4 linked regions of the Homo sapiens genome follow. The protein of the gene in region 2 purifies or fractionates together with the protein of the main gene of each other region. This does not show direct contact. Each region holds a gene or a part of one and is shown on either strand. Other genes may lie near its edges. The genes, in order: USP1, RAD51AP1, USP12 and JUP.

The links.
Region 1: the proteins of RAD51AP1 (region 2) and USP1 purify together in Homo sapiens (affinity purification with mass spectrometry; 4 studies listed by BioGRID and IntAct, with this or other methods). This does not show direct contact.
Region 3: the proteins of RAD51AP1 (region 2) and USP12 purify together in Homo sapiens (affinity purification with mass spectrometry; 2 studies listed by BioGRID and IntAct, with this or other methods). This does not show direct contact.
Region 4: the proteins of RAD51AP1 (region 2) and JUP purify together in Homo sapiens (affinity purification with mass spectrometry; 2 studies listed by BioGRID and IntAct, with this or other methods). This does not show direct contact.

The regions. Positions count from the first base shown.
Region 1 is NC_000001.11:62,440,049-62,447,075, reverse strand, and holds part of USP1 (ubiquitin carboxyl-terminal hydrolase 1), read right to left. Parts: intron 5,589-7,027; coding exon 5,468-5,588; intron 4,882-5,467; coding exon 4,777-4,881; intron 3,918-4,776; coding exon 3,757-3,917; intron 2,339-3,756; coding exon 1,647-2,338; intron 1-1,646. UniProt on the Homo sapiens protein: Negative regulator of DNA damage repair which specifically deubiquitinates monoubiquitinated FANCD2. Also involved in PCNA-mediated translesion synthesis (TLS) by deubiquitinating monoubiquitinated PCNA.
Region 2 is NC_000012.12:4,548,886-4,555,912, reverse strand, and holds part of RAD51AP1 (RAD51-associated protein 1), read right to left. Parts: intron 2,931-7,027; coding exon 2,766-2,930; intron 1-2,765. UniProt on the Homo sapiens protein: Structure-specific DNA-binding protein involved in DNA repair by promoting RAD51-mediated homologous recombination.
Region 3 is NC_000013.11:27,091,791-27,098,817, forward strand, and holds part of USP12 (ubiquitin carboxyl-terminal hydrolase 12), read right to left. Parts: intron 4,041-7,027; coding exon 3,811-4,040; intron 1-3,810. UniProt on the Homo sapiens protein: Deubiquitinating enzyme that plays various roles in the regulation of the immune response and inflammation.
Region 4 is NC_000017.11:41,783,710-41,790,832, forward strand, and holds the start of JUP (junction plakoglobin), read right to left. Parts: upstream 3,003-7,123; 5' UTR 2,879-3,002; exon of another isoform or gene 2,794-2,878; intron 2,399-2,793; exon of another isoform or gene 2,308-2,398; intron 2,268-2,307; exon of another isoform or gene 272-2,267; intron 1-271. UniProt on the Homo sapiens protein: Common junctional plaque protein. The membrane-associated plaques are architectural elements in an important strategic position to influence the arrangement and function of both the cytoskeleton and the cells within the tissue.

The sequences.
Region 1 (7,027 bases), on a different chromosome or scaffold from region 2:
TTTGGGAGGCTGAGGCGGGCAGATCACCTGAGGTCGGAGTTCAAGACCAGCCTGACCAACATGGAGAAACCCTGTCTCCAGTAAAAATACAAAATTAGCCGGGTGTGGTGGTGCATGCCTGTAATCACAGCTACTCGGGAGGCTGAGGCAGGAGGATCGCTTGAACCCGGGAGGTGGAGGTTGCAGTGAGCCAAGATCATGCCATTGCACTCTAGCCTGGGCAACAAGAGCAAAACTCTGTCTCCAAAAAAATAAAAAAAATAAAAAATAAAAAAAAGTCAGTTGTATTGTAACTCCCTTCCTACAGACACCTCCCCATAGAATAAACCCAGAATAAGGATGACATTTTTGGTAAAACTATTCACTATATCAATATTACACATTTTCCCTGATATCTGTAGATCTGGACAAAACTAGGTAAAAATCTAGTTCAAGTATCGTGTAACTTACAGTTATGCACCACCTACCAACGTTTCAATTATTTAACAATGGACCGCATATGACAGTAGTCTATGATTATTTTTACTGTACCTATGTTTACATATCTATGCTTAGATACGTCTTAGATACACAAATACCATTGTGCTACAGTTGCCTACAGTATTCAGTAGTTATATGCTATACAGGTTTGTTGCCTAGGAGCAATAGGCCATGCAAAGCTTGCCTGTAGCCCGTAACAAATTCATAAACTTTCTTAAAACATTATGAGACTTTTTTGATTTTTTTTTTTTTGGCTCATCAGCTATCATTAGTGTATTCTGTGTGGTGTGGCCCAAGACACTTCTTCCAGTGTGGCCCAAGGAAGCCAAAAGATTAGATACCCTGGTCTATACCATATAGGCTAGTTGTGTAGTACGCTCTAGCATCTAGTTGTGTAAGTACACCGTGAAATTCACACAATGAAACAGCACATTTCTCAGAACATATCCCTGTTGTTAAGCAACACATGACTGTACTTAGTCTTTACTTTTAAAATTTCACTAAATGCAATGTCCTTCATCAGTTTATGTCAAACACTGCATAAAGGGAAATGTACTCTTAAATGTACATTAAAATATACTGAACTTCCCTACTTTATTATTATTTGTTTTTTTTTGAGACGGAGTCTTGCTCTGTCGCCCCAGGCTGGAGTGCAGTGGCATAATATTGGCTCACTGCAACCTCCACCTCCCGGGTTCAGGCGATTCTCCTGCCTCAGCCTCTCAAGTAGCTGGGACTACAGGCGTGCGCCACCATGCCTGGCTAATTTTTGCATTTTTAGTAGAGACGGGGTTTCACCATGTTGACCAGGCTGCTCTTGAACTCCTGACCGCAGGTGATCTGCCCGCCTAGGCCTCCCAAAGTACTGGGATTGCAGGTGCGAGCTAACATACCTGGCCGAACTTCCCTACTTTATAAGCTATAAATTAAAATTACTTTAATGACATTACACACACACACACACACATATATATGCATACAATATATACACACACACTAATCTAAGCATAGCACTTAAAACACCATAGTTCACATTCAGTGTTAAATTTCCTTCTCTTGAAACAATTTTAGCCAGAGATTATATTGTACATGTATCTAGGAAGAGAAAATTCTAATTCTGTAGCTGCTAATGCTTCTACCTATCAAAGTCTAAGAATTATACTAACCTTTGTTTATGGGTTTAACTTCATTAACATTTACAGGTGTAACAGTATTTCCTGGAGATTCAAGTCCACAACCATTAGTTGTGTTATCACTTTCACACTTCCCCAAGTCCTCTTCAGGATCACATTCATTTTCTTTAGATTGTCCTTTGACTCCTTGGTTTGTTGTTATTTTTCCCAGACTACAAAATTTAGAAAGAATGCTGGGTTGCTTAGTTGCAGACTTTAACCAATTTATTTTAACTCTTGATTTCTTTTGTGAGGGTCTTGGACTCTCATTTTCAGAAATATACTTGGGAATTATTTTAGGAGGACTCTCTAATGTATCACTTGTAGCTTTTCTTTTTGATCTAGTTTGTCTCTGGTTCTCTTCCAATGACTGGTGTTCCTTGGATAATTTAACTTTTTTCTTCATGTTACCAAATTCAGTGTCACTTTTTCTTTTCCCATTTCCTTTTGGGAGTTTCTCTTTAAAGTCTTCAGAATGCCTCATACTGTCCATCTCTATGCTGTTAATACCATTCATTTCCTCTTTCGGATGAGGTATTTCTTCTACCTTAGTAGGTAATTCTGCCACATTTTTTACTTCTTCTTTTTTTAGGAGTTGGCATGTTTCTTGAATGTTTCCCAAAATACATTGTAATACTTCCTGTGCATCATGCTGTAGATATCCTTCATACATAGGGTTGAGTTCCCTATAAATAAAAATTTCCATTTCATCTATTCTAGTTTTGAAGATACAGTACATAAAGCCTATATAGAAATTAATTCATGTAAGGAAAATCATAAATTATTTCATTTTTTAAATGTCAAGACATTTATTCAGCACTAATTTGGAATTTCTTATCTGTAACTAAAAGTAAGAGTAAATTGTACCCTATTTTCATTATAATACTTTGATCCTCTTCTAAATATATTAATAACTAATACTTAGATAATGCTTACCATACACCAGGTTTTAGTCAAAATGTTTTTTATCTCCTATGTATACATTATCTTCACAATAACCCTATGAGGTACTATTATCACCATTACTGACAGATACAAGCACTAAGGCACAGACAGGTTAAATAACTTGCCCAAGGTCACAGAACTACTTAGGATGAAAAGCCAGTATTCAAACCCGCTCTTGGCCACCACGCTACAATGGCCTTTTTTTTTTTTTTTTTTTTGGAGACAAGGGTCTTGATCTGTTGCCCAGACTGGACTGCAATGGCGCAATCTTGGCTCACTGCAACCGCCGCCTCCCGGGTTCAAGCGATTCTCCTGCCTCAGTCTCCCGAGTAGGTGGGACTACAGGTGCAAACCACCACACCCAGCTAATTTTTGTATTTTTAGTAGGGGCAGGGTTTCACCATGTTGGCCACACTGGTCTTGAACTCCTGACCTCAAATGACCCACCTACCTTCACCTCCCAAAGTGCTGGGATTACAAGTGTGAGCTGTGACCGGCCTACAATACCTCTTAACTAAGGTATAGCAATATATTGCACCTAGTTCTATTTTTAAACTAAATGCTTAAGTGATTGTTTTAAAGACTTGCCCTATAATTGTATTTGAATAAGGCTATTTTATATGTAAAGTTTCATTTTTAAGAAAATACCAAAAAGCAATCTAATCCAGTTAGCCAACAGTTCTCCTCTAATCACATATAAAAATAGAATATTTGGAATTTACAGTTCTTACACATATTTTGAATATAGTCCTATAATTCTTAATGTGAAATCCTTAGGACCACGCATTTAGAAATTCAGACATTTTCAGATTCAATGATTATATGGCATATAAGTAAAATATTTATCACCGACTTGATATGGGAGTACTCTATAACTAAACACATTACTACTTCTATAGAAGCATGTATGAATATTCACGTTAGAGATAAATATGAATGACTATAAAAAGCCTCATATAATATGTTCAGATCTAACGAATTTAGCACCAAATTTATGAAAAAAATTTCCAGTATTCAGAGTCTCTGGGATATAAAGGACTGTGGACCTAGAGTTTCTACTTTCCTTGCCCTTTATTCCTGTTTCTTCGCATGTCATTCTCCTCCAAGGATATAAACAAGTAGCTAAATTGAAACCCTAAAATTATATTATAGGCTATACCTCAGTGTGTTAAGCAGTCGCCTTGGCTGAGTGGCAAGTTCATCAGTATATTTCTCTGGATTTAAGAGAAAACTAGCCTGGAGCTGTTCAACCGAAATGATTAAGGACTGTAAACTGCATATCAATTCATAACTTGCCAAAGAATCTTCTTTGCAATTTCCCTGTCAAGAAAGAAACACACAAACCAATAATTTTATGAACAAATTAAGTACCTTCCCCCTTTGTCTTTGTCTCACTTAAGAATACTAGATTTTCTAAGTTGCATAATAGCACTAATTTTAAGGGATGTACAAATAAGCCTTATTTTTTATTTTTTTATTTTGAGACAGGGTCTCTGTCGCCCAGGCTGGAGTGCAGTGGCTTGATCGCGGCTCACTGGAGCCTCAACCTCCTGGGCTCAAGCAATCCTCCACCTCAGCCTCCCAATTAGCTGGAACTACAGGCTCACACCATGACGCCCTACTAGTTTTTGTATTTTTAGTAAAGACAGGGTCTTGCCATGTTACCCAGGCTGGTCTCAAACTCTTGCGCTCAAGCAATCCACCACCCACCTTGACCTCCCAAACTGCTGGGATTACAGGCATGAGCCACCACGTCTGGTCTTTTTTGTAATTTTAAGAGGAATTATGAATTACTATTTATGTGAATTACAATGGTTTTTTAATTATGGAAGTTAAAGATTTCTTTAAATACACTGTATTTAAATTTTAACTCAATTTGAAAACACAATGGGTAAATAAGTTGTACATGGGTATAACATATTGTGATTATAGTATACAGTAATATATAGTATACAAGTAACAAAAGTTTGATACACAGATTACAGGAGCAAACATTGTAAAAGGGAATTATCTAGTTAGCCACCTTGAAAGAATGAAAAATAATTGCCTGACAATAGCTCGCTAACAGAGAAATAATCTTTGTCATCCACCCCCCCAGTCCTCTTCATTTCCAGGCAAGTAAATTTCCATTAATTTACTTTTGCTTTTTACATTATTTTCTGTTCTTTATTTTTCTTACCTTGTCTTTTTGATTGGCTTCATCCTTTAGAGCTTCTTTCTTCCTTGAAATAATATTAAATAAGTGCTTTACTCCAGATTTAAAACCGGGACAAAAATATAATACCTATAAAAAGTGAGATTGTCTTAAGTGTTTACTGAACAAACAATACACGTAAAATCATTAAAACAACATCATGCTTTCTATAGAGCACTTTTAACATGTATTACCCTAAAATTCTGAGATTAAGTTTTGTGTCAAAATTTGTTCTCCACTTCATCAGTAGTAGCCCAGTGTCTTCCCTCATTAGCACAAAGCACTGCACCTGGGCAGATATTGCTAAGACTTTAAGGTTACAAGGACACACAACACAGCGCCAACGGACACACAACACAATGCCAACGTTACTTCCAAGGGATAAGACATATATCACACTGTAGCACCAGGAATCAGAGAAAGAAATTAAAGGTTTGACCTTCCACTTAAGGTCTACTCAATTTTGCTATCCCACCTTTATTTAGTCTATCATTTTCTCTTACCCCAAAGGAAGTTTAATAACATGTAACTTATTATTTTAGCCTATTCTGGTTTATTAACAATCAAAGGCAAAGACAGTATGGACATTAAAGTCCTCCAATAACTCAAAAACATTAAATGCTACATCAATCTTTGCCTACTAAAGCTTTATGATATAGCAAAATTGTCAATTTACCTGAAGTATACTATTAAGATAGCAAGTATTGCCGAGATTATTCAGTCCCACAAATGGTAACAAGTTTTCTCTCTTCTCACAGTTTATAGGTGAAGACTGTGCTGCAGGAACAACTTGATCACTATGAAATATAGAAGGGAGAACGATAAGTAGTTATCTTAAAGAAACAAGGTGAAAATATTACTTCTGTAGATTTAGTCTTTTCCCAAAAGTTGTATAATCTGAAAAGTATGTGAATCTTGTTCAGATGACATTTTAAGAAATACAGGCTCAAAAATTGCTATATGCCCAGAATAAAAGTTTTAAAAGCATTTAAAAACATTATTACACATAACAAGCCACAGAACAATTCCCTTAAAAGGATGTTAATCCTATTTTACAGAGTAGAAAATTGAGGAACTGAGAGACTATGATTTGTTTCATCTACTTTGACATTTTAATCAAATAGTTTAACTGAACAGAAACCTGGGAATAAACTAACCATGACAATATTTGGGAGAGGCTGCACTAAGTAAGATTCTATTAATAAGAATTCAGAGGAAAGAAAGTCTGTGAAGAGAATTATATATGACTTCCTGCTGGTAAAAAAAAAAAAAATATGTAGCTATCCCTCACTTAAAAATAAAATGTTCAGAATGTGGGTGTGGGGGCATTGACATGTAATTCCAGCTACTTGGGAGGACTGCTCGAGCCCAGGAATTCAAGACCAGCCTGGGCAACACAAGGAGACCCCATCTCAAAACACAAATGCTTTAAGTTTACTATTCTTTTACTTCTTTAACAACAACAACAAAAAAACCACTAGGTCCTTCCAATATTTTCATTTATTTTACGATTGCTAGCTATTATTACTCTAGCACCTCAAAGTATTCAGAAGTATGAATGCTGATAAACAAAAGCTTCACTCTCACAAATCTCCTCAACTGGTTATTGATAGCTATTAGGAAATTAACACATGGGACCAAATCCACCTTAGTCACCCAGCAGAGTGCCTATATGTTAAACAGGGAGTAGTACAGACTCCAGCTAGAGCTGCTGGTGGTGGAATAAAGTATTCCACTTTGTTCTGATTTATTTTCTGTAGCTAAATAATTTATTTGCATCAAAAGCATTACTTAAAGTTTATTTTTATAATTTGCAATCATATGCCTCCAACAGGTATGACTAGTTACATGACTAGAGTTTAAAATGTCTTATAACTGTCAAGTCTTCTGAACCAAACAAATATATATATATATATATATAAAACCTTTTACCCCTACACAGATGTTTTGCACTACAAATAATCAAATTTAAACTCAGAAAGACAATTTTAGTCAACAAATATTTCTCCAAGTTAGTCTAAATGGCTGAGCACAGTGTTAACATGAGTTAAACATTATCGATGTGATTCCTACGGGGAACCACCAGTTTTGCTGTTCCTACTATAAACTGCTAGATTTGACTAAGAAGTACACTGAAGCGTACTTTTTTGTGCCGCTACAGACTATCAAGTCAGACTGGAGTTGTCAACCAAGTTCACTGCTGCTTTACTGTAGAATTTTTAAAGTACAGAAATGT
Region 2 (7,027 bases):
CCCAAGGACTTTAAGGTTTAGTCACTAGACTTCAGTGGGAAGAACAGGAAAGTAAAGATGTGTAAAATGCAGTGTGGTAAGGGATATGGCAGACTCTAAAGGTATGCCAAGTAGAAAAGGAAACTGCAATCTGGGGGTATGTGTTTTAAAGTTAGAAGGAGGTGAGTGAGGATGGTCTGAACCAAATCAAGATTGAAGAGTAAAGGTGAATTGAGAGAAGCTTTCCAGGCAGAGGGAGTACAGTGTGCAAAGATGGAGGATGCACCAAGTTCCAGAATCAGTAGTACTGACTGGTTCAGTGTACGGCTGGAGCAGAAATCTCAAGGGTAGGAAATGTGAGAGATAGACACTGGGTGTAGATCACTTATGAAGAGCTTTGCAGACCATGTACAAGAGTCTGGCTAGTCACAGTCATGCACATATTTTTCTCAGGAGTGATTTGTATTTTAAAAACATCTTTCTGGTGGTAGTGTAGGAGAAGTAGGCTACTTAGAAGGTTATTATGGTAATCAGGTAAGAGGAAATGGGGGCCTGCTAAGGTGGAGAATAGAAGGAAAACAGCACATTAGATATGTTTTGGCAAAAATAGGTGGGAGGCAGCAATGGAGATGAAGAAATAATCCATGACTTGCAGGTTCCTGTCATGGGCACACTTTGATGGTGCCATTTATCTAGAGAATAAACACAAGCCTGGAAGTATGTTTTGGTTCTATTTATTTATTTTTTTGGTGGTGGGGAGGGAGGAGAGGTGGCATTAAGTTCACTTTCAGACAGTGCTTGTTTTGAGATACCTAGGGGTATTTCAACACATATAAACATGAACATTTTCACCGTATACTCTTCCTAATGTTAACATCTGCATCCTCTAGATCAGCACTGTCTGATGGAACTTTCTGTGATTATAGAAATGTTTTGTGTTTTGTGCTGTCCAATATGGTAGCCGCTAGCCATATACAGTTACTGTGCACTTGAAATGTGGCTTGCAAAACTGAGGAACTGATTTTTAAATTTTACTTAATTTTAATTAATTCAAATGTAATATAGCCACACATGGCTAGAGGTTACCATATTGGACAGCATAGCTCTCAACATTTTTTCTATCAAGGGAAAATTATAACATGTGCTAGACACAATTCGCAAAGTTTACCCAATACATTACTAGTAGGACTAAAAATATAATCCATTTTTCCTAATTCCTAGTCCTATCACTTAATGGTTAAATTTCATTTCTAATATTATATATTAAATCTCAGTTGTGAAGCAACTTGCTCCAAGGGATAGAGAAAAGATTTTAAATGGTAAACTCCAACTTGGGAACTGAAGTTTTATTTTTAGTTATTAGTGTGTCTTGGTGAAGAAGCATAAACAAACATCTAAAGAAAATACAAAATATATTCATGGTGTTAATAACTTTTTCCTATTATAGCTTGTAGTAGGCAGAATACTGGCTCCTCAGATGTCTACATCGTCATTGCCAGAACATGTGAATATGTTACCTTACATGGCAAAGGGACTTTGCAGATGTAATTAAGAATCTTAGATGGGGAAATTACACTGAATTATCTGGAGGGGCCCAATGTAATCACAGGGTCCTTATAAGTAAACGTGAGCAGGAAGAAAGTCAGAGTCGAGTAACATGATGTGAGAAAGTCCCTGCCATTGCTCTCTGAAGGTGGAAGGGGCCACAAGCCAAGAAATGCACCCTCAAGGAGCTAGAAAAGACAAGAACGTGGTTTGTCTCCTAGAGCCTCCACAAAGGACCACAGTTTTGCTGACTACTTGATTTTAGCCCAGTGAGAACCACTTTCGACTTCTGATACTCAGAATTTCTGGAACCCAGATGAAGTCATCAATTAAAAAAAAAACACTCTAATTAAAAAACCTCATTAATTCAAAATACAGGAGAGAGAAGAATATAACTCAATCAGTACTTAATTCTCATTTAATTCTTAGTAAGTACTCAGCAACAGGCTACTGAAGGTGACAGCAGCTCCTATGAATAAATGGAAAGACTAAATAATGGAACTTTTAATATCAATAGCATATATATTAAATAAACCAAGACATAAAAATGATTATCAAGAAATAAAACAAACTCAGTTAATGACAGTTATATTTTGCAATAACCTATCATATACTATGAACTCAAAAATATCCTAACTTCTTTTACACAAGAAACAGGTATTCCATGTTCGAGTCACCATAAATTTTAAACGTTTTATCATAAAAGTAGTTTCTAATGGAATTTGTTTTGGGGAAATAAAAAAAAAAAAAGGGCCCTAAACATGTGGCAAAAGAGCTCTCAAATCAGACTAAGTAAAGCACAAAAGCAAAAAATTAGAATTATGCAAACTTCCTTGTTTTGTCTGGAGAAAATATGGTCCAAGATACAGCTTAGACTCTGAATGGACAAACATGGGTTCAAATTCTAGCCCTTCACCTATTAGATGTAAGATTTCCAACAAATTATTTAACCTCTCTGACACTCAGTTTTTCACTGTAGAATGCAGGTGACAACAGCTAACCACAGACGGCAGCCATGAGTACCAAAGTGAGGTCATATACAGTAAGTGCTAGCATACGTAGTGGAGTCAGCATTCTTGTCCGCTTTTCTCCCTTCCCCACCCCACCTTCCTTTTACATATTTTAACAAGAAATGGACGTTAGGAAAATGTTAAAGAGAACAAAGGCAAAAATAAGAAAAATACGGCAAACAAACCACATACATTTCCTTTATAAAATTAAGTGTTTTGGACCAAGCTTACCCAAAGCATTACATTTGGATTTAGATTTCTTCTCTTTCTTTTCTACTGGGGATTTTACCTTCACTTCTTTCTTTTTAATTTCTTTAACTTTACTTTTTCTCATAGAGAAGTCTTCGTCATTATCCTCACTCTCACAAAAATCAGAATCATCCTCAGAATCTTCACCTAAAACAGAAGATTATATAGTTCATCTTTGCTCTAAAAAGTGAGGATTCTGTTGCCTTAACTTTATCCACAGCTTTCAGATTCTTATGCACCTTTGTGCTGCACTGTTTCCAGTAGCAGAACACTGCAGTGGTTGCCATTGTGGGTGCCTGGGTTTGCATCCTCAGACAGGTCACTAACTTCACTGAGCCTCAGTTTCCTCACCTAGAAAATGGGGATAACTGTAAACCTCCATCAAAGGGTTGTTGCGTGGATTAAATGAGTTAATATATATATAATGCATTTAGAATAACATCTGCAATATACTGAGCAAAATAAAATTGTTTGCTATTACCACCATCACTATAAATTTCCCATCAGTAATCTTTACTTCAGATTTTACCATTTTAACTCAGTGACTTTTGAAAAGAATGGTAGGGTATGACAATAGCTAGTCTTTCAAAACAGTGACATTTATGGTAATAGTGAGCCTTCCCTTAATCACATAAACTTCAACATTCTGGAACAGACCAAATGAGAATTGAGATAACCATACACAACAATCTTAGCAGATAATCCTAGAGCTGATTTCATTTGGGACAAACCTTTATTTCTCAAAAATGCTTTTCTGCACTTCGTGGCAAAATATAAGCCAGTGATCTAATTTTGAAAGTGCTACAGCTGCTCTAGAAAAAAGCATTTCCTAACCTGATAGTTAAGCAATGATCTTTCTATTTTTTGAGGGGGTTAGGATCAGAAAACCATGCCTTGTAGATAAACTCTGAAAACTAAGTGTAAATAGGGTTAGTCCTATATTAATATAAAACTTTTTTACATTTTTAATATTATGGACATGCTTATTGCAGAAAATGCTTAAATCAAAAAATGTACAAATAAAATGAAAAATAAACAGTACATGCTGATTGTAGAAAATACAGACCATACAAAACTTTATTAAAGAAAATCTACTCTGTAATCTCACCACTCAGAGATAACCACTATTGTCCCCACATACTAATATCTACCTATCTATAAGAAATATTATATGTAAAATACAATCATATAAAATTTTCAAACCTATACCACAGTAGACAGTAATAAACCACCACTCAGATTCAACAATTATCAACATTTTGCTCCATTTGTTTCATCTATCTCGCTCTTCTTCTTCTATTCCCTTTTGTAGTATATTAAAATAAAATCAAGGCATCACATCATTACATTCCTACATACTTCAGAATGTATCTCTAAAAAACATAAGCATTTTCTCATACAACAATGCCATTATTACATCTAGCAATACCAACACTAGTTTCTTGGTATCATCTTCTATTCAGTCTATATTAATCTCTTTTAATATAGAGCAGTATCTTCTCCCTGTCCTCCCTTGTGTCTGACTTGCTGAAGCAGTTGAGTCAATTGTCCTGTAGAATGTCCTAAATTCTGGATTTGTCTGTTTTCTAGCTCATGGTGTCATTTAACTTAATCTTGCTTTTTTTTTTTTTTTTTGAGATGGAGCCTCACTCTGTCGCCCAGGCTGGAGTGCAGTGGCACAATCCTGGCTCACTGCAACCTCTGTCTCCCAGGTTCAAGCAATTCTCCTGCTTCAGCCTCCCAAGTAGCTGGGATTACAGGCACACAACACCACGCCCAGCTAATTTTTGTGTTTTAGTAGAGAAGGGGTTTCACCATGTTGGCCAGGCTGGTCTCGAACTCCTGACTTCAACTGATCCACCCACCTCAGCCTCCCAAAGTGCTGGGATTACAGGTGTGAGCCACTGTGCCCGGCCATATTCTTGCATTTTATGTGAGCTGGAATTCTGCTCTCAAGGCTTGAGTGGATTCAGGCTCGCTTTTTTTGGTGGTGGGGGGAGGAGGGACGGCAAGAATATACTTCATAAGTATATTCTTTGTACTTCATATTACATCACATCAGAAATCATATAATGTGTGGTTGTCCCTCTCTTAGGTGGTTCAGGTGATGCCAGCCTGAATTCAACATTGTAAAGATCCTTATCAACCTTCCATTGATGACCTTTACCTAAATCAACAATGTCATTTATGGGCTGGGCACAGTGGTTCACCTCTGTAATCCCAACACTTTGGTAGGCCAAAGCAGGTGGATCACATGAGGTCAGGAGTTCAAGACCACCCTGGCCAACATGCTGAAACTCCATCTCTACTAAAAATACAGAAATTAGTTAGGCATGGTGGCGCATGCCTGTAGTCCCAGCTACTTGGGAGGCTGAGACACAAGAATTGCTTGAACCTGTGAGGCGGAGGCCATGGTCAGCCAAGATCGTGCCACTACACTCCCGCCTGGGCGACAGAGCGAGATTCCATCTCAAAAAACAAAACGAAACAAAAACAAAAAACAATGTCATTATGATCTTCAAATTGCAATGTCCTTATTCTATCATTGTTCCCACACACAATGTTAAAGATAATCAACTCACATGTTCACATAACGGTTCCCGTGCTATAGAGAATCAGCCCAGAAAGGCCAGCAGGTCCCATGAGGGCTGTTAGAAATGCAGCCTGCAAATTCAAGCAATCCTAAGAAGCTCTCCGCTCAAAGAAGGCAAGGGGTAGAGGAACTTTCTCCAAACTTTCCAAATATATTATCTACAACAAAACTTTCTGTGTATCCAATAGTTCTGATACTGCATGTGTTCAGTAACTTAGAAGTCTGAAGGATTCTCTTCTTGGCTCAAGAGGATAAACAGTAGGCCCTGGCAACATTTCTGTGTAACAAGCTTGTTCAGAAATGGGGTCCAACTAATCTTCGTCAGTCAATTGAGAAAGCAATTTAAATAAAATTAGAGATGGGGAGTTGGAATTCCCAAAATTCCAAGTCATTCGCATCCCATAGAGGAAAATCTGGAAGGCCCAAACACTTCAGTTACGGATTTTGGGAACTGTTAGAGAAAAGACTTATCTTCTCTGCAATTTTCTCTTTTCTTTCCCTAATGAAGGTCACACATGGTCCTTTCTATTCTCATCCAGGACAAGCGAATGCAGGGGGAAAACTGAAATGTCACTTTGGGGCTGCTTCCACTTCTTGGCTATTATGAATAATGCTGCTATGAACACGGGTATGCAAATGTCTCCCTGAGATCCTGCTTTCAATCGTTTTGGATACATACTCAGAAGTGGATTGCTAGATCATATAGTATAGGCTGAGTATCCCTTATCTGAGGTGCTTGGGACCAGACATGTTTCAGGGTTCAGATTTTCTTTGGGTTTTGGAACATCTGCATTATACCAGTTGGGCATTCCAATTCCAGAAATCCAAAATGCTCAAATGAGTATTTCCTTTAAGCATCACATTGGCGCTCAAAGAGTGTCTTTGCATTTTCCTGTCTCCCAGGCCCTCCCAAAGTAAAACAAATGCAAAACAGTCTTTTTTCATGTATTTCCGTTGTTCCAGAAGGACAGGAGCTGTTTGTTTTTTTCACTATTGTATCCCTAGTATCTAGAATATAATGCACATAAAAAGCATTCAAATATTAGTCGAATAAGTGACGATGAGCAAATCTGTTATTGTTTGTTGATAGTATATCAAAATCTAAAATATGGTATCTTGATTTGGCCTACATTTATGAATTTATGAATTTAAATTTTTAATTAATATGTTATAATGTTCTGTCAAGGTCACTACACTTTCCATTTGCCCAATTTCTAAATGAGTCTAAAAACCATCATAATAAAATATAGATTTCATATCACTTCTGCCTCAGAATAATTCATGGATTTCTACTACCTCCAGGAAAAAAAAGCCTACACTTCTTCCAGTGGGTCTGAGACCCTCCCTGATTAGTACCAGCCTCCCTCTCGAGCCTCTTCCATGTTCATCCCAGCAAGCCTCAGTTAGAGACAAATAGAGCATTTGTCTATTCCACAGGTAATGCCTTTCTGTTAGTCAGAAATGCTACTTTACACCTTTAGTTTGTTGAAACGCTACTCATTTTTCAAGGCATAGCTTAAAGGTTAACTCGTAGAAAAAACTTTTTCCCCAAATGCTATCACTGAATTGAACTGTTCTGTGTGTCCCTGAAGTTTGCACACCCCAAAGGTTTAACACAGTGCTTTGCACAATTAATAGCTTCCAAGAACTT
Region 3 (7,027 bases), on a different chromosome or scaffold from region 2:
AACCCTCATAGAGAACACCAGAAAAGGGTGTTATAGACACCAGCTTCCTACCACCTGAGACATTACCAATTGCATTTCTAAAATACAAGCATGAGCTCCTCCAGGAAGCTGGTCCTTTACCTGTCCAAATCCTTCCCACTCCCACCTGGGTTAGGTCTACTATTCTCTGGCTGGCATGGCATCCTGTGCATACACATACGATAACACACTGTACTGGAACTGCCTGAACACTGCTTTGCCAGTCTTCATTACCATAGGAGTATCTTGTGATCAGAGGCTTATGTCTTACTCATCTTCTACCATCTTCTACCTGGCATAGTTGGTGCTTAGCACCCCCCAAAATGAATACTTAAATATAAATCTAACAAAACACGCATGGTATTGATATGAGGAAGAACTACCAAACTCCAATGAAAGATAGCAAAAAAAGTGGTAAATAAGGGGAGACAGTGCATGTACTTAGATAAGAAGACTCAACTTTGTCAAGATATCATTTTTTTCCCAACTTCATCTATAGGTTCAGCAAAATCCTTATCAAAATCCCAGCAAGTTATTTTGTGGATATCGACGAACTTGATTCTAAAGTTTACATGGAGAGGCAAAAGACCCAGAATAGCCAACAAAATATTGAAGAAGAACAAAGTCAGAGGACTGAGACTACCTGACTTTAAGACTTACTCTAAAGCTACGGTAATCAAGACAGTGTGGTAGTGGGGAAAGAACAGATATACGGACCAACAGGACAGAAGACAGTGACCAGAAATACACTCACACAAATAAGAGTCAACTCATCTTTGACAAAGGAGCAAAGGCAATTCAACAGAGAAAGAATTGTCTTTTAAACAAATGATGCTGGAGCAGATGGACATCCACATGCAAAAAAATTAACCCAGAATAAACTTTCTAATACCTTATACAGAAATTAACTCAAAAAGGATCATAGACTTAAATATAAAATGAAAAACTATATAATTCCTAGATAACATAGGAGAAATTCTAAGGGACCTTTAGTTTATGGATGACTTTTTAGATACAACACCAAAAGTATAATGCATGAAAGAAAAAGTTGGACTTTATTAAAATTAAAAACTGATAATTAAAACATTAAAAACTTCTGCTCTGCCAGCCAGGCCCGGTGGCTCACGCCTGTAATTCCAGCACTTTAGGAGGCCAAGGTGGGTGGATCACTTGAGGTCGGGAGTTCAAGACCAGCCTGACCAACATGGAGAAACCCTGTCTCTATTAAAATTACAAAATTAGCCGGGCGTGGTGGCGCGTGCCTGTAATCCTGGCTACTAGGGAGGCTGACACAAGAGAACCACTTGAACCCAGGAGGCAGAGGTTGCGGTGAGCCACTGCGCTCCAGCCTGGGCAACGAGAGCGAAACTCCATCTCAAAAAAAAAAAACTTCCACTCTGCCAAAAACAGTGTTAAAAGAATGAAAAACAAGTCACGGACTGGGAGAAAATATTTGCCAAAGACCCACCTGATTATGAACTAGTAGCCAAAATTATACCCGAAAAAAAAAACCCACTTAAAATTCGACAATACTCAAAGAAAAACAGCCTGATTAAAAAATGGACAAAAGATCTGGACACATCACTAAAGAGATATAGATGATAAATAAGCAGACAAAAAGATGATCAACATCATATGTCATTAGGGCCTTGCAAATTAACATGAGATAACACTACACACTTATTAGAATGGCCAAAATCCAACTGACAACACCAAATGTCAGCAAGGATGTGGAGAAACAAGAACTCTCATTCACTGCTGGTAAGAAGGAAAAATCGTACAGCCACTGTGGAAGACAGAATGTTGGTTTCTTATCAAACTAAGTATACTCTTACCATACAATCCAGTGATCCTGCTCCTTGATATTTACACAAAGGAAGTAAAAACTCACATCCACACAAAAACCTGCACACAAATGTTTATAGCAGCTTTATTCATAATTGGCAAAACTTGGAAGCAACCAAGACGTCCTTCAGTAAGTGAATGAACTTTAAAAACTGCAGCACATCCTTACAGTGGAAATGTTGCTCAGCCAAAAATAAAGGAAATAAGTTATCAAGCCTTAAAAAGACATGGAAGAACCTTAAATGCATATTGCTAAGTGGAAGAAGCTAATCCAAACAGGCTGCATACTATATGATTTCAACTACACAATATTCTGGAAAAGGCAAAACTATGGAGACTTTACAGGACTCTTAGCTTTCTTGCTTGTGGACCCTATTTTCCAATGTTATTAAAAACTAGCAGCACAACTGTCACAGTAAAGATGAGATCAGGCAAAATCATAAATGCATGCTAAATCTTGGGTGAGATTTTGATGAGGAGGGAGGTATTTGTGTCTCCCCACAGACTGCCTACTAATTGCAAGGGGATTTAAAAAAAAAAAAAAAAGTCATCATAAAGTGGAGAAACTGGCCCAGCACGGTGGATCATGTCTGTAATCCCAACACTCTGGGAGGCTGAGGCAGGTGGGTTACTTGAGGGCAGGAGTTCAAGACCAGCCTGGGTAACACAGCAAGACTCTGTCTCAAAAAAGTTTAAAAACTAGCTGGGGGTGATGGCATGCACTGTAGTCCTAGTTACTCAGAAGGCTGAGGCAGGAGGATCACTTGAGCCCAGGAGTCTTGGGGCTATAATGATCTATAACAGTGTCACTGCACTAAAGCCTGGGCGACAGAGCAAGAACCTGTCTCCAAATAAATAAATCAAATGGAGAAACACCACCACCTTGACTGGGTGATCAAAAATTAATTTCACCAATGAGAGGCAGATGGATATTGTGTGCCTACAGACGTGATGCCCCGAGAAAAACACAACATGAATGATATATTATTATTAGCCATGAATGCATAACCTGCATCTAGTTAGGAAGAAACATCAGAGAAACTAAATATGAGAACATCTGATTTTAAAAAGGTGAGGGAGGCATATTCTCAAAAAAAAAAAGACCATGTAAATGTTTCAGGTTAAAGAAGGCTAAAGAAACAACTAAATGCAATGTCCCCCTCTAAATTGGATTCTGTACTGAATAGGGAAAATGCTATAAAGAACATGACTGGCCGGGCATAATGGCTCACACCTGTAATCCCAGAACTTTGAGAGGCCAAGGTGGAAAGACTGCTTGAGCCCAGGAGTTCAAGACCAGCCTGAGCAACACAGTAAGACCCCTGTCTCTACAAAAAATAAAAATTTAAAAATTAGCTGGGTGTGGTGGCACGTGCTCGTGGTCCTTGCTACTTATGAGGCTTAGATGGAAGGATTGCTTGAGCCCAGGAAGTCGAGGCTACAGTGAGCTGAGATTGGGCCACTGCACTCCAGCCTGGGTGTAACAATTTTCAAGCTTCATCTTTACAAAGTGTCCAGCAAGTGGGATTTTTTCCCCTCCTTGAGGGTACACTGTATGCTTTAGTTTTTATCCCAACAATGGATACTAAAGGTAATCGTAGAAAAAGGAAAAACGAATTAATATGCCTCCCTGATCTGTATGATCCTATGAGATTATGTCATAAGACATAATTTCCACAACATGGTTCTATGGCCTCCTAAACTGAAAGAAAATCAAACAGTTCAAGCTACAGTAAGTATCTTTCTATCACCTCAGGTATTCATTGTCAATAAGCAACATTACATTAAGAATACAGACAGATTCCTTTTAACTGAAAAATACATCTTTAACTCCTATACCTAAGAATTACAACTTTCAAGTTCATCTTCCATTCTGTCTTTCTCAAAGAACAACCTTTAACATAGTAATTCAATTTTTCTCTATACAAAATTGTATGATATACTTACAGTTTCACAAGTAAGACATCTGGTTTCATTAGTTAATGTTCCCTGAAAAATCTCATGAACCCACGTTGGGTCTGGTGTGCTGTTATTATTTTCATTATCAATATTACCATTAGGTAAACGACCATTTTGTTTTTCCTGCTTTCTCTCTTCTTGTAAAATATCAGCAATTGTATTTAGTAGGTAATTTAAGAATTCATGGGCATCTTGTTGCATGTAGTTGTCAAAAAGCTCTGAAAATAAAAACATTATATTAGAGAATTATTTCAGAATTCATAACTTCATAAAAAACCAATTTATAAAAGAATATCTAGTATTGGATCAGAACTAAAATATAAATGCACAATGTTTTTGTAATGTATAACAAATAACTTTCGCATCTAAAACTTTTATCTGTATTTGGGGAAAATGTAAAATTAATTAAAATCTTGTTTAAAAATACTACTAATTGATCCTGAGAAAAGGGCAAAACCTATCCTTATATATTGGCATAACAGATACTGAGAATTTAAGAAGAAATTGCTTATTAGCTTACCTGACTTATTATTTCACAAATATTTCAACTTGGCAAGCTTTAAAGCAGAAGTTGGACAACCATTTGCCAATGCCAAGCCAACTGCTTTAGACCCACAAAGTTTATCAAAAATAAATTACTGAACCATACATCCCAGGGATTCTGATTTAGTTGATAAGGGGTAAGCCCAGAACGTGGGGCTTTTCAAAGCTCCTCCAACTAACTCTGATGTAGAGTCAGGTTTAAGAATCATGTTATCAAGAATTATCTATATAATCCAGATAATCTCAAGTCCCTTCCAAATGTGAGACTTTATAATTCCACAAAACGTTCCCTGCAGTTACACAAATGAGTAAATATAACTGAAATATTGGTGGTGCTAACATCAAGCGTGCTTTACCCTGTGCTTGGCAATATACAACTCTACCATAGAACAGTAAGGACTTTAGAGGCAGTATCTCATTTGATCCCCAACAACCATGTAATATTGTTATTAACTTTATTTGTAAACATGAAAATGGGACGAGACAGAGTACAGTCACACTGCCAAGAAATGGCAGAGCCAGGATTCAAACTGGGCAGCCTGACTCCACCATGCCACACACAAAGTAATGCCCAGTATAAGCCCACACACAAGAACATACATGAATTGGTCAATAAAATGCATTGAGAAAAATTACCTATTTAGGACATTTTATTTTTAGATCCTCAATGTACATTTAATAAGTTCCAGAAAGATTTTACATTTTAAAAATGAATGCATACAAATTTAGAAAAAAATTTAGGGAAAGTCTAAGATAAAACAAATTAACAATTACATTTTAGAAGAGATACAGATATGACTACATAAAATTAAGTTCTATGTATTAGAAATCTTTAAAAAAGTTTTAAAAAAAGTGAAACCTGAAAATTATTAACATTTTCAACATATAAAAGCAAATCTCATATAAAAGAAAACCAAACTGGACAATCTTATAAATGGCAATCAATTTATAAGAAAAAAACAATCAAAAGGCTAAAAAACATGAGAAAATGTTCAATCCCATAGTAAGTTTAAAAAAAAAAAAAAAGCAGGCCAAGCGCAGTGGCTCATGCCTATAATCCAGCACTCTGGGAGGCCAAGGCAGGTGGATCACCTGAGGTAAAGAGTTTGAGACCAGCCTGGCCAACATGGTGAAAGTCCGTCTCTACTAAATACAAAAAATTCACTGGGCATGGTGGCACATGCCTGTAATCCCAGCTACTTGGGAAGCTGAGGCAGAAGAATCGCTTGAACCCGGGAGGTAGAGGTTGCAGTGAGCCGAGATTGCGCCATTGCACTCCAGCCTGGGCAACAAGAGCAAAACTCCATCTCAAAAACAACAACAACAAAACAGAATACCATCTTTCTTTGCAAAGTCATTGTAAAAACAGAAAGGGAATGAGTGAAGCTTTTTATGGGGGTAGGAGGGCACAGCTGCTAGAGCAAGGCTGTCTGGGTTGGTGCTATGGTTCTACTTCTAACTGCACGCGTGGCATAGGCAACTTATTCAAGCTCCCTGTTCCATAATTCCTCATCTGAAAAATGGGGCTCACAGCAGTACCTGTACCTCACAAGGCTGGGAGGAAGATTAAAAGTGCTTAGAATACAACAATAGGTTTTGTATTCTGTTCAACAACAACCACAGTAACAATATTGGCAATATCACTACATGTTGAATATCCTTTATCTAAAATGCTTGGGACCAGCAGTGGTTGGGACTTCAGACTGCTTCAGATTTGAGAATATTTTCATACACATAATGAGATATTTTGGGGATGTGACTCAAATCTAAACATGAAATTCATTTGTTTCATATACACCTTATAGCCTGGAGGTAACTTTATATAGTACTTTTTTTTTTTTTTTTTTGAGATGGAGTTTTGCTCTTGTTGCCCAGGATGGAGTGCAACTTCATATAGTATTTTTAAAAACTTTGTGCAGGGAAGTAAATTTGTGTACACTGAACCATCAGAAAGTAAAGTTGTTACTACCTCAGCCACCCCATGTGGCATCATGCAGCTCAAAAAGTTTCAGATTTCTGGATTACGGATGCTCAACCTATATAATTGTTGTTGCTACTGAACAGAATACAAAACACATCAAAGACTGACTATGTAAAAACTATGAACTTCTGTATGGCAAAGTCAACATAAATGAAGACAAGTGACGAACAAGGATAATTATTTGCATATTAATATCCAGACTATGTAAAGGTTTAATATACAGAATATTTAAAAAAAAACCCTTTACAAAACAAGAAAAAAAATTTTAAAAACTGGCAAAGGAAAATAGCCAATTCAGAGTAGAAATACAAATGCCTAAATAATACATGACAAGGGACTGGGAAATAACAATTAAAACAATGACAAAATATCATTTTGCCCATCACTTTGGCAAAATAAAAATTGACTTAGTTTCCATCCAGTGTTAGCTTGAGTATGGAGAAATGGACATTCTCAACTGTTGCTGCTGGGAGTATAAACTGGTATGGCACGTTGTAAAGGCAATTTTGGTAACAGATTTAAAATAATGCAACCTAGTTCTCCCAGGTATCGATGCCAGGTAAGTATCTGTGCATGTACCAAAACAAGCATAAATACGGCTGCTTATTTATAACAGCAGAAGTCTGAAAATATCCTAAATGTTTATCAACAGGAGAATGATTTATTTAAATTATGCTATAA
Region 4 (7,123 bases), on a different chromosome or scaffold from region 2:
GGAGATCAAGACCAGCCTGCGCAACATGGTGAAACCCTGTCTCTACTAAAAATACAAAAATCAGCCGGGGGTGGTGGCACACGCCTGTAATCCTGGCTACTCAGGAGGCTGAGGCAGGAGAATCACTTGAACCCAGGAGGCGGAGGTTGCAGTGAGCCTGGGTGACAGAGCGAGACTCCATCTCAAAAAAAAAAAAAAAAAAAAAAAAGAAAGTGCTTGGTTTCTGTAAAGTCTTACCTTGATCTTGAGTTACCGTTTGTCAAGTACTTACTGGGTAGATAGGTATTAGTATTCCCATTTTGCCAAAGAGGTCACTGAGGCTCAGGTAATGAGAGACAGAGCTGGGTCTCAAACCCAGCTCAGTTCAAGCCCAAAGCCCTGTGCTCAGAACTGCCCCACTGTCCCATCTCTCCAAATAAACAGTCCTTCTGTAGACTAGTCAATTGACCCATCTCACTCTAAGGTGGCTCCAGGATGGGAAAAAGGTTGGCAGCCCTAGCCCGACCTTTTTCGTTCCTATGCACTGCATTCTCAAAGCCTCGGCCCTGGCAGCCCAAACAGAGGCTCCAGAGGGAATGGGGTGGAGCCAGGGTGCAAGGGAGGGGTGGAGTGGGGGTGGGAGGGCTCAAGTCACCCAAGCTGGGGCTTGATCTAGCAAGAAATGACTAACTGGGTCCTACCTTCTCCTCCTCCCCCGCATCCCCCAGTCCAGTCAGTGGCCAGTTTTCACCAAGCACCTCCTAGCAGTACTTCCTCAGTATTATCTTTTCATCACAGCCACAAACCAGATTAGCTAAACTAATCATGTAGCCAACATAATTACAATGCCCTCCCCTCCTCCACCTTGGCACAGAGAAGAGGGAAAGCAGGTTATTTTTGCCCAAACTCCCTGCTCCTGTTGCTCCCCAGAGGTGCAGAATCCCATCCCCCGGCAGAAAAGGATCTGAGTTCCCACACTGACTTCCCCCTAGCACAGGGCTGAGCGTGATCCCCACCCAGGATAAAGGGGCTGAGTCTGGGCCCCCAGCCTCACTCCCCCATCTACAACAAAGAAAGAGGTGGTAGACTCTTCCCCTCCAAGCACTCTCGATCCCCGCCCCCCACAATCTTTCTCCCACCCCCAGGACTGAGAGAGAACCCAACTGTTGTATTCTCTCTCTGTTCCCCAACGAGGCTGGGCTCCAAATCCTGCAAAAAGACCACATTTCAGATTTTTTTTTTAAACCGGGGTACAAACCCTGATCAAGATCCCCAATTCTGGGTGGGGGGGGGCGGTCTCAGGAAATTGGGAGCAGGGAAGGCAGGGGGCCCGATGCAGCTCTGCCTGAGAGAGTCTAGCATTGAAGAAACCTTCCCCCAAAAAGCCTTCCTGCGGTCTCACTTTCCCTGTCAAATTCTTTCAGGAAAGCGGGTGGGAAAGGTCTGTGCAGGCCTCCAGAAAGCATGCACCTTCACAATTCAGAAATCAAATGGAAGGCAAGTCCCACAGCCTCATGCGCTTCTGCCTCAATAACCAGCCAGCTAAGTAATGTGGGGGATGGGGTAGAGGCAAAAAAAAAAAGACAAGAACAACCACTCCCCCCACCTTCCTCAGTTTGGCCCAGCCCTGCCCCACCCCCATTCCTGGGGAGGGGGCAGAGCTTGAGAGACAACCACTTACGCAGGCCTTGTCTGAGGGGGTGTGGTGGTCCCAGGAGGCAGGAAGAGAAGGAAGAAGCTGCTTCCCCTCTCAGCACTTTCCACCCCCCACCCCGGCCCCTACCTCAGGCCCCTGGGGCCCAGCGAACAGGATGAATGTGGGGGCAGGGAAGACAGGGTCGGAGCCCAGGCACCGGCCCAGGTTCAGCCAGGGGCCGGCTGGGGGAAGGGGTTTTGCACCAGGAAGGACCCCCTAAGCCTAAAGGAAGTTTTGGGCAAGGAGACGGGAAAACCCCCAGATAAAGCTGCTGTGAATACTTCCTCCTGCAAAGTTTGTTTTGGGTGATTTTTTCCAACAATAAGAGGTTAGAGAAGACGGGTCCTGTTCCCCTACCAACACTCTGGCAGCCACAGCTACTGGAAACTGGGCCAGGTGACCCTGAATTCTTCATCCGTGCACAGACCCCACCCCCCAGACCCCAGGGCGAGCCACGGGTGCCAGACACCAGCTGGACACTGAGCCGAGCCCTGCACCCCCCAGTCACTCCATCCCACCTCCGCTGAAGAAGCCAGAGCCGGGCTCCCACCGGCGTGGAGGGAGGCGCCGCAGGTAGTATCGACGAGGCTCTGGGAGCTGGAGGGCAGGGCCTCTGGACTCCGTGCGCTCACCTGCTCGGCAGGTGGGGCCAGAGTCGCTGGGAAAATGTGCGCTCGGCCCCCACAGTTGGGCAAGCTGGGCGCAAACAATAGGGCCCCACCCAGGCCTGGGGGAGTAGGGAGGGAGGGAAAGCGAGGATGACGCGTGGGGTGGGGTGAGGGTGGCCCCAAAGAGACCAGCGGCAGCAAGTTCCCCAAACGGTAAATTCCTGACTGCAGCGTGAGCCCTGGGACGCAGTCGAAGCAGAGCAAAGTCTCCCCCGCCAGCCCAGGGCGAGAGTCAGGGACGCGGCGTCGGGCGAGCTGCGCGGGCCCCGGGGGAGGCGCGACCCCGGAGGCACCTGTCCGGATCCCTCCCCGCCTTGCTCAGATCTCTGGTTCGCGGAGCTCCGAGGCGCGCTCGGCCCGAACCGCGCGACCCCCAAGTCGCCGCGCCCAGGACCCCAGCGCGCCCCCTGCCGCCGGTGCAGGGTGGCGCTCGATGGCACCGGCCCTCACCTGCCCAGGGACGGCTGGGACCGGCCCCGCGGCCGCTCGCCACCCCTCTGTCCCCAACGATACCTGCGCCCCCGATAGCCCGCACCTGAGTATGGGGCCTGACCGGGCCGGGTCGGGGTCGGGCCGGGGTGGGAGCCGGCGCGGACAGCGAACTGAGCTCGGCGTGGTCGGGCGGCGGCTGCTCCGGACTCTGGCCAAGGCAGCAACTCAGTAACCGAACAAAAGGCGAAGAGACCTGACAGCCAAGCCACGCCCCTCGCCACCTCGAAGCTCCGCCCCTGGGGGAGACGCCCACCCTCTGGTGCGAGCTCACTGGCTATCTCGCCTGACTGTCCCGTGGAGGGGCGGAGCCTCGCCTCCAGTCCTCTTCCACGGCCGCCTCTGTTTATCCGCTTGCCATTGGCCCCGGGGACTGCCAGTCGGCTCTAGGGATGGACTCTAACTTGAGGTCTCATCCTAACATTGCATCTATTGGCAGATAGAAAGTTACTTCCTCCTGATTGGACAAGGCTCTGTCAGTAAGACTAAGGAAAAAACCAATGGAAGGGATGGGGTGTGTCTTGCCCCACCCTTGCTCTGAGCAGGTGAGACTCATTACTCTCCCCTTCCCCCTACCTGTCCAACAGGTAAGTCATAGGGATACCAAGGGAAGGGACAGACGCCTTCACCGGCCAGCCAACTCAGCGTCAGGCATGATGCTTCTTTGGGCTTATTCATCCTTGCCCCAAAGTAGTAATCACATATTTGTATAGCATTTCATAGGCTTTGTGCTGGGGTGGGATTTTTTTCCCGAAAGATGGAGTACTCCTGGGATTTAGAATTAGAAGGCCAGGTTTGGTCTTCTCCCACTTGGTATGATTTTAGGCAAGTTACTTCACCCTGTTTCTCCTCTTCTGTAAACTGGATACATTAGCCATATCTACCTCACTGGAGTATGTGGGGATTAAATGAGGTCAGGTTTGTGAAAGCACTCAGAAACTGCTAAAGGTTAGAAATTTAAATTAACGGTATGTTTTTTTTTAATTATTGTGACAGCTCTGAAAAATAGTTAGGATGAGAAAACGACCCTCATTGTAAAGATGAAGAAACCGAAGTTCAGAGAAGTCACAAAACTACAAAGTGGCACACCCCAAGCTAGAACCTCCTTCCTCTCATTTGAAGGACCATCAAACCAGCTGTTCCCCTCATGGAAGAGGAGCATAGACATAAAATGTCAAGGCAATGGGGAAGGGGCAGAGAAAAGGCACAAACACTTGGAGGAGAGACAGAACAATTAATTGGCACAAAAATACAGTATTGGTGTCAGGAGGCTTTGGTGGGCTTGGAAACATCAAGCAGCAGATCTGAAGGAAATCCAGCCCTGGCATGAAAGAAACGGGGCAGGCCAGGCGCAGTGGCTCACTCCTGTAATCTCAGCATTTTGGGAGGCAAAGGCGGGTGGATCACCTGAGGTCGGGAGTTCAACACCAGCCTGGCCAATATGGTGAAGCCCCATCTCTACAAAAAATACAAAAAGTTAGCCGAGCGTGGTGGCGGGCAACTATAATCCCAGCTGCCTGGGAGACTGAGGCAGGAGAATTGCTTGAACCTGGGAGGCGGAGGTTGCAGTGAGCCGAGACCATGTCACTGCACTCCAGCCTGGGCATGACAGAGCGAGACTCCATCTCAAACAAAAAAAAAAAAAAGAAAAGAAAAAAATAAACCGGGCAGCACACCCCTCTGCGATAGGAGAGCCTGGGGTAGAGATCAGAGAGAACTTCTCGGCCAGGCGTGGTGGCTCATGCCTGTAATCCCAGCAATTTGGGAGGCCAAGGTGGGCAGATCACTTGAGGTCAGGAGTTCGAGACCAGCCTGGCCGACATGGTGAAACCCCATCTCTACTGAAAATACAGAAATTAGCCAGGCATGGCAGCGGGCACCTGTAATGCCAGCTACTCGGGAGGCTGAGGCAGGAGAATGGCGTGAACCCGGGAGGCAGAGGTTGCAGTGAGCTGAGATCATGCCATTGCACTCCAGCCTGGGTGACAGAGTGAGACTCTGTCTCAAAAAAATAAAAAGGACTTCTCACAGGCAGCTTAAGAAGACAAGGGCACTTCCTTTCTGTGGTTGATGACATGAATGCTGCTCGTGGCTGTATGGTGTGCCAAGGGCCCTACAAACATTCCTTCATTCAACACTTGAGTATTCATTGTCAACTGTATGTTAGGCACTGGTGAACACAGAAAATAAAACCTGGTGACACAGGAAATAAAAATGATCCCAACCTTCAAAGAGCTCATAGAAGGATAAGCAGAAGCAGCGTGTGTGGGTGGGTTTTGGAGGAGTGGTGGTTTAGAAAAGGGTCCCCCATCAACAAAGCTCTACAGCCCCAAAGCTAGCACACAGGATGGGCTGGATGAAGGTACCTTAGCAGCAACCTTGACCACTTTCCCCACCAGAGAAAAGAATGGTAGCTGAACATTCTCCCTTCTGAAGTTGCGCCATCCAAAAGCAGGGCCAGGGAGATACGGACATCCCTGAACTAGTGGCCATCCCATAACCAGGGCCACCGCCCTTTGCCTGTTTCCTCAACTCTCCATCCTCCAGCTTACCTCCCTATCTTTATCCCTGCCTTACCCCTGCCCCATCCACCTGCTTGTCACCCTGTCACATAGAGCTGTAGCCAGGCCACAGCTGGGGAAGGAATGGGCTCACAATCCTGGACTGCTGCAGCTGCCAGGGTTTCATTTCTTCCCCCTTCTGCCCACCTCCCACCTCCACACATGCACACACACATACGTCCCAGCTCCAAGCCTGGCCTGACTCCTTCCTATTTCTCCTGACCTCAGCAAAGAGGCAGGGTAGGGCTGGTTGACTGCAGAGAGGGGTGGAGGAGCCCATGTGGGTGGAGGAGCAGAAATAAGGTTTCAGAATAAACCGTGTGTGTGTGTGTGTGTGTGTGTGTGTGTGTGTGTCTCCCCAGAATGCCCCCTGCGTGTCTTAGCATGGAACATGTTGCATAACACCAGCCCCAGAGCTAAACACACAGGCTGGGACTGGTGGAAGCACCACCACAGCAGCGGCAAAGACTGGGATTAGAGCTGAGTCTCTCCTCCCAGATCAAGGGATTCTCTTTAAGCACCTACTATGTGCCTGGCAGGCACTGAGATTCATCTGTATCTGAGAATACAGAATAGAATCAGAAATGATGTTTCCTAGACTCAGCTGTCTGCACAGGCAATTTGGTCTCTTGTGAAAGGAGGTATGTAGGGATAGGATGGGGGTTTCTGTGACCACAGTCTCCCCTGTAGCTTGAACTTGAAGAAAAGGCCGCAAGGTCATCTTATCCAGTCCCCTGCCTGCAAACCTTTAAAGGCAAGAATTCTCTGACAAATGTCCAGGAAAGAAGATCCTGCAGCCTCCCTTATGGTGAATGCCCCTGTCTCCTTGTTCTAATGTCCAGCCTCAATTCCTATTCCTGCAGTTTCAATTCCTTCCTCTTGCCCAGGGCTCAGTGGAAGCAGAGTCCATGGGCTGCCAAAAACACATATGGGTAACTCAACCTTGCAGCTTGCTAGTGCTTCAGAGTAGAGAATATAAGGGTACCACATGGCCCATCTCAAGCTGCTGCAGAGACAGAAGTAACTGGCGCAGAGAGGTTCAGTGAGGGACTGGTGGGAGGGAGGCTCTTTTCTAGGGGAGGGTGCACACCATCAGCCAGTGTCCAGGACCACCAGGCCACCGTCCTCTCCTTATCTCACAACCCCCCTCATCTTCCACGAGGCCTCTGGGCCATACAAGGAGATGGAAGAGTTTCTGTTCTCCATTCAAACACAGTCCTTAGGGCCGGGCACAGTGGCTCATGCCTGTAATCCCAGCACTTTGGGAGGCCGAGGCGGGTGGATCATCCAAGGTCGGAAGTTCGAGACCAGCCTGACCAACACAGAGAAACCCCATCTCTACTAAAAATACAAAAAATTAGCTGGGCGTGGTGGCACACACCTGTAATCCCAGCTACTCAGGAGGCTGAGGCAGGAGAATCGCTTGAACCCGGGAGGCAGAGGTTGCAGTGAGCAGAAATCGTGCCATTGCACTCCAGCCTGGGCAACAAGTGCGAAACTCCAGCTCAAAAGTAAAAAAAAAGAAAAAAAACCCACAGTCCTTATTCTATGGGGGCCTTTTCCCCAGAGACAGGTAGAAATTTAGACGTACACAAGCCACACACACACACACACACACAACCTTCTATGCTCACACCTCAGGGATATACACTTGCGGGTGCAGATTCAGATACACAAACACCAGCTTTCTCTAATACACGCGCGCGCACACACACACACACACACACACA